Homo sapiens: one gene and its partner. The protein of the gene in region 1 purifies or fractionates together with the protein of each later gene. This does not show direct contact. Each region holds a gene or a part of one and is shown on either strand. Other genes may lie near its edges.

Evidence for each region.
Region 2: the proteins of NDRG1 (region 1) and ACSL3 purify together in Homo sapiens (affinity purification with mass spectrometry; one large-scale study listed by BioGRID and IntAct). This does not show direct contact.

What each region holds. Positions count from the first base shown.
Region 1 is NC_000008.11:133,255,753-133,259,252, forward strand, and holds part of NDRG1 (protein NDRG1), read right to left. Parts: intron 3,479-3,500; coding exon 3,416-3,478; intron 2,675-3,415; coding exon 2,614-2,674; intron 1,112-2,613; coding exon 1,025-1,111; coding exon of another isoform or gene 974-1,024; intron 1-973. UniProt on the Homo sapiens protein: Stress-responsive protein involved in hormone responses, cell growth, and differentiation. Acts as a tumor suppressor in many cell types. Necessary but not sufficient for p53/TP53-mediated caspase activation and apoptosis.
Region 2 is NC_000002.12:222,864,036-222,867,535, forward strand, and holds part of ACSL3 (fatty acid CoA ligase Acsl3), read left to right. Parts: intron 1-3,500. UniProt on the Homo sapiens protein: Acyl-CoA synthetases (ACSL) activates long-chain fatty acids for both synthesis of cellular lipids, and degradation via beta-oxidation.

The DNA.
Region 1 (3,500 bases):
TCCCTGGCAGCCACCCAAAATTGGGCAAAAATGCACTTGCAGAATGAGAAGCTGCGATCACCTCAGCTTGAAAGACTCTGTCCTATTTCAACTGGAATGACCTCCCCCTCTCCTTGGCCAACACTGAGGCCTTTACAGGGAAAAAAACAAAAACAAAAACACCACAATGATAATTTTTAAAAGATAAACAAGGAACCTTAGGACACCAGCCAGGACAGAGCTTCCCAAGACAGCACAGGTCCCTTCTCCTCCAGGCAGCCTACCCTGCTTGCCAGGCCTGCCTGTCTCCCACCCTGGACAGGAGCCCCAGGGGCACGGGTGGTCAGGTCCACGAACCACAAAGTCAAAGCAAGCTGCATCCAGTCCCCGTTCTACTGCCTAGCTTTATGTGACCCTGGACAATCCCCTTAGCCACACCGAGTCCTTACCTCTGAAACGGTGATAAAAATTCTCACCTCCTAGAGTTACTATGAAGATTAACTGAGATCATGCACACACAGCAACGTAGAATGAAACTAGCACATGGTAAACTCTCAATCTACGTTAGCTAATTATTATCGTAAAATTCTGTGGCACAGTCCGTACTAAATACATATTTATTTTTCTTTAATAATATGTGAATGGATTCCTAAGATTCATTCCTAGAGGCTTTTGTCTTGTTCATCTCAAGAAGTCTTGTTCTTCAAGATGCTCAGCATCTTGACCAAAGCCTGGCACAAGTTATGTACCCAGCTAATACTCATTAATCCAAGCAATGCTTCTCCAAGCTGCCTCAGGGACCTGTGTCCCAGTGCTTTCCCTGGCTTAGACAGCTTGGTGGTATTTAAGTCTTCTGAATGGCAAACGGCTGAGGTCATGTGTACTGTTCTAAGTAAAGCAGAGGGAACTGGAGTGGGCAGTAGAGGGTAGTGGAGGAGTGGGTAAAGAGAGAGCTCGTAGCTCCAGGGATCCCCCAGGCAGAGGCTGTGTGCACCTGTCCCTCTTCTTGCAGGGATCCCGCCGGCCTGACAGGCCCCCACCTCACCTTGGAGGCGGCCCAGTCCATCCAGCCTTCCGCACAAGGGTTCACGTTGATAAGGACAAGGCCCTCCACCATCTCAGGGTTGTTTAGCTGCAATTCAAGACACAAAGTGAGACAGACATCCCAGCAATCTGAAACACTAGGAACTTTCCAAGGCAAACCAAAGCTTGAGAGAAGTACCCAGAAAAAGGCAGTGTGGGCAGCAGAGCAGGCTGCTGCTCCCCGGCCCCACCCCATGCAAAACTGAGGTTCCAGCACAGCAGACACGGTATCGGGTCCTAGAGAGAGTGGGAAGGAGAAAGAGGAAGTGCAGGAGAAGTAGGAAGCCCGCTGCTTTGCAGGCCTGCCTTGGGCAAGTCACTTCAACCCACGGAGGCTCAGCTTCTCCAGCTATCAAATGGGTGTAACACACCATCGACCTCATCAATCAAACAAGGCGCACAGCACAAATGCTCTCTAGTTGTGGCAGTAACAACTGTATTACTTACTTCCAGGATAAACACATGCATACACACACACACACACACACACACACACACACACAGAGAGAGAGACAGAGTTATGCATCGCTGAATAACAGGGATACTTTCTGAGAAAATTCATCATTAGGAGATTTTGTCATTGTGTGAAGATCTCAGAGTATACTTACACACACCTAGACAGTATAGTCTACAACTCACCAAGGCTGTATAGAACAGCCCTTTGCTCCTAGGTTTGCTGTACAAACCTGTACAGCATATGACGCTACCCAATACTGCAGGGAATTGCAACACAATGCTAAGTATTGATGTATCTAAGCAAATCTAAACATAAAAATGGTACAGTAAAAATGAACCATTATAATCTTATGGAACCACTGTCAAATGTGCAGTCTGTCATTGACCAAAATGTCATTATGTGATGCAGATACATACAGATATAGATATGTACACCTGGGGTACAGTTGAGACCATTTTTAATTTGCTGAGAGCCTATATGGCCAGACCATTTTGTATTCATGTCAGCATTCCTTTCTTTTTTTTGTAAGATGGATGTTGTAGAATCATGTCAGTATTCCCAACCTCCAGCAAAGCCCAGCAAATAATAGGTAGTCAAAATACCAATGGATGTACAAAATGAGTATTGTTGCATTCTTACACAATTGCTCGGTGAGGATACAAAGGAACAGTGGCTCTTGACCTGAGCCCAGAGAAATAACAATGACAACTGTCATGAAAACTTCCCGTGTCTGATTCTAGTTTAGAATCAGTTATGACCCAGGAGTGCCCTGACTACAAAAACCTGTACAGCTGTTACAAAGCAGTGTCATAGCAGAGTACTCAGTGAGTGAGGAGCGTCCTCACTAGATGGCTAAGCGGACAAAGCCCATGACAAAGGAATGTGTCCAGTATCATCCTTGAGTGGAGGAAGAGAAAAGGCTGTGAGTATATATATATACGAGTACCCATGCACCACACACACACACACACACAACTGTGGAGAATACGGGTCATTTCTTTTTCCCTTTTGGGTTTTTGATGCTTTTCCAATGTCTTCCTTCATCTTAAAATGTTATTTAAAATGCGATTTTCAAAAAATGCCAAAGCACTCACAGCAAATCGAGTTAGGATGTAGGCGCCTGCTCCTGTTCCCATGCCAATAATGCTTTTCAGCCTGGAAGCAAAAATACAAATGCATGTCACACAAGGACAGAGTGACGGGAGCCTCCAAGGACCCACTTAGAACTTCCTGAGGGTGACCGCCTGGCTAGGCAATGCGGGAGCATGCTGCCGTAACTGCCTGCACAGCTCTGAGGTCACCATGCTTTAGGACTGGACAGAGACCTCGACCTTGGAGAGCCGCGCCCCTTCTCCTCACTTCCCTCCTGGCCGCCACCCAGGCTCTGAGAGACCGTCTGACATTTACGGGAAGGCCCGTTACGGCATCATTTCTTCCCACTCTTAAGCTTTATTTTGGATTCTAAAACTTGGAATGAAAACAAATTGAGCAAGAACCATGAAGTTATCATTCTTTGAAGAGCTCAAGACAGAGAGGAACACTGGAAAAATGAGGGTGTGGAGAGAAAAGCTAAGGACTCAGGCAACTCCATTCCAGAACATTCCATGGGAAAGAGAAGGGAATGGAAGAACAGGAGGCAAGAGCAAATGGGTGGGGCAGCTGCCATCATGCAATATAACATTCACGCAAGAGGAAAACTGAAGTTAGAGGAGACAGACTAGAGCTCAGAGACTGTGTGAAGAACAGTGTTCACAGAGTGACGAGCTAATTTCTTGCCTCATCTCTAAATTGCAACCTTAATTTTAGTGGTCAGTCCAGATCAAAGCCAAGGGGCAGGAAGATGCTAGAAACCAGGCTTCTCTGCAGACAGAGAAGGAGCTGATCCTTCGCTCTTACCCAAACTGTTGAAGGACTCCAGGAAGCATTTCAGCCAGCTGATCCATGGAGGGGTACATGTACCTGGGGATGACACAGAGAAGCC
Region 2 (3,500 bases), on another chromosome or scaffold:
ACAGAAATACTGAGAAAATGGAGATAAAAAATTGTCAGGATATGGTGATAAATAGTAAATGGAGTGGGAGAAAGAGGTGCTAAGTGATTACTAGGTTTCAGACCTATGCAACTAAAGAGGTATGTGTGCTATTCACTGAGCTGGGGCTTAACTGGTAGAGAACTAGGTTCTGGATATGGGAAGGGCATGACTTTAGTTTTGGAAGTGTTCAGCTGGAGCTGCCTTTGAGGCCTTTATTGAGGTACTGGTTTTGTGCTGAGAATTGGGGTGGCCATTTACCGTTTTGAAGACCTCCATGTAGAGGCAAGAGCTCAAACCATGGGTATGGGTGAGATTGCCTGTGGGGAGGCTATAGAATAAGAAGAGAAGGAGGCCTGGGATGGAGCTGGGCAGAGGAGGTTGAGCTTGTCAAGGAGACAAGAGTGGCCAGGAAGGTCAGAGGACAGCCAGAAACAGATGTTCCTGCAAGGCGATGAGTCAGTACTGTGGAATGCTCCTATGAGAGAAGAATTGAGAACCATCATTGAATTTAGCAACATGGAGGTCACTGGTGACCTTTGAAAGAGATGCTGATCTGCAGGTAGGGGTGGGATGGGGAGCAGTGGGAGGTGAGGAAAACGGAGACAGAAACTGTTTCCAATAGGTTTGATTTCAGCATGTTTAAATGCTGATGGGAAGGCTCAGTGGAGAGGGAGTGGTTGAATATAGACTAGAAAAGGGTTTGTGCAGAGTTCCTAAAAGGATGGGGTTGGGATGGGACCCAAAGTACAACTGAGGCCTGTGTCTTTGCTGGGAGGAGGGGACACCTTCCACAGTAACAGAATACAGGCCTGTAACCTATGGAGTACTAAGCAAATGCCAAAAATTGTCAAGAACTGTTAAATTTCTAAAAATTAGCCCAATTTTAGTTGACTCATGACAGTCTTTTAGAAAACTTTGTTGCAAGAGCATTGTGTGATTGATTTAAAATGTGGCTCAGTCTTAATTTCATCCCTCAATAGAGTATATATTTTCATCTGACTTTTGATTGTAATTTATTTATTTTCTGAAAAAGGAGACATTGTAAATGTTAAATCCTGTGGTGCCTTCCTTACATGTTTATTTTTGGTTTCATTAGAAAAAAGCTTTCAGACGGTTTCTGTTTTCCTGACATCATAGGTGCCTTAATTCTTTTAATTTAAAGTTTAGCTTCTGTTATTATTGGAATATGTTTATTTACGTATTTTTGATGTTTCCCATTTTGAAGGGTAAAGAATTGGATGATTCAGTAGTTTCAACTGATCTGCTAATTTTTGTTTAGAATTGAAGATACTTAAATAACCAACCTTTTGGATAAGTGGCCTCCAAATACAGCTTTCTGCTTGTTTGTGAAGGTATTTGTTATTAAGGATTCATTCATTCATGTATTTACTTAGTGTCTGTTTTGCAAGGTACTCGGAATTTGGAAATGATTGGGCGAGTTCCTGCTCTTAAGGAGCTCACAGTTCACCACAGGAAAGAGGTGTATGAACAAATTACAGCATGGTGGAACAGAAGAAGGTATATGAGCAAATATATTACAGGATGGTATAATCAGTGCAGCAGTGGAATCTGCTAGGAAATAGAGAAAAAGTGCAGAGCAGGCACAGAGTAGGGAAGGAAAAGGGGAGACTTCTCAGTGGAGATGATAGCTGAACTAGGTTTTCCAAGATGAACTGGAGTTTTCCCAGGTCAACAGGGAGCCAGGAAATAGAATGTTTTACCTTGATTTTGGATCCTCTGTGTGTGTGTGTGTGTGTGTGTGTGTGTGTACACAGATGTGTACGCATTGGAGATGTTATAACGCTACCAAAGAATATTGTTAGAAAAATTAAAAATTGCTTATCTTACTATCCTCATGTTGATTGCTCTAGCTGTGAAAAGCTGCACATTTTCCCCTGTCCTGTCATGGTCAACTTTTCTGTCTCCTATTTGATGCAGAAAGTAACTGAACTTAATTATATTATTTGGATACAAAGCCTAGTTTTTGTTTTTCTAAATGAATGGTCTTTGGAATAAGGATAATAGCCAACACCTTTATAGTATACTGTGGCCAAATGCTGTTCTAATTTTTATCTCAGCCTTGCAAAATAGGTACTTTTTTTTTTTTGAGACGGAGTCTCGCTCTGTCCCCCTGGCTGGAGTGCAGTGGCATGATCTCGGCTCACTGTAAGCTCCGCTTCCCGGGTTCACGCCATTCTCCTGCCTCAGCCTCCTGAGTAGCTGGGACTACAGGTGCCCACCACCATGCCCGGCTAATTTTTTGTATTTTCGGTAGAGATGGGGTTTCACCATGTTAGTCAGGATGGTCTTGATCTTCTGACCTTGTGATCCGCCCGCCTCGCCCTCCCAAAGTACTGGGATTACAGGCTGGGAGCTACTGCGCTGACTGCAAAATAGGTTCTTTTATCATTCTAATTTTTACAGCTGAGGAAACTGAAGCACAGAGCAATTTAAGTGACTTGCACGATTGTGTGCTAAATGTGTGCTGGATTTCATCCCAGGCACTTTGGTTCCAGAGTCCCTGTTCTTAACCTGGGCGCTGCATCTCCTCTCTGGAGTGACAGTTTGAAGTTCATGTTAACCTTTGAAGGCATGATTGTGTAGGGAAAGGAGCTGTGATGACATTTAGGGGCAGTTTTATGTCTGTTTTAATTACACAAAGTTGCTGCCCCAAATAAAACTGCCCTGCCCCCCCCGCCCCCCCCCCCCCCCCCCCCCCCCGCCCCGGGGAAATCATAAGGAAATTGAGAGAATTTAACTAGAATTTTCTTTTTTTTCTTTTTCTTTTTTTTTTTTGAGACAGAGTCTTGCTCTGTCACCTATGCTGGAGTGCAGTGGTGTGATCTCTGCTCACTGCAACCTCCGCCTCCCGGGTTCAAGCAATTCTCCTGCCGCAGCCTCCCGAGGAGCTGGAATTACAAGTACCCACCACCACACTCGGCTAATTTTTGTATTTTTGGTAGAGATGGGGTTTCACCATGTTGGCCAGGCTGGTCTCTAACTCCTGACCTCGTGATCTGCCCATCTCAGCCTCCCAAAGTACTGGGATTGCAGATGTGAACCACCATGCCCGGCCTAGAATTTTCTTTTTGGACTTGAACATAATTCCTCAGGATGCTTTCCCCTTTAACCTTACTTCGCAGGAATTGTTATTGACTTTTTAGATTGGAATATAAAGGAATTTGGGATCCCATAGTCTGCTAATTCCATTTTCTTTTCCTGTCTTTTAACTAAAATATTGACGCACTTTCTGTATGTTTGAAAAATATTTCATAAAATTTAATCCACTTAAAGAAACCCACTCCTTTCCCCCAAATCTTACAGCTAACCACTGCTCTGAATTTGGTGTTTATTATTCCTATGTATTTCTGTACAGCTTTATTACACATGTGTGTTTCCTTAGACAGTGTATAGTATTGTTTTGTGTATTCTTAAACTTTATATAGATGGTACTGCATGTATTCTTGTTCAGCATACTG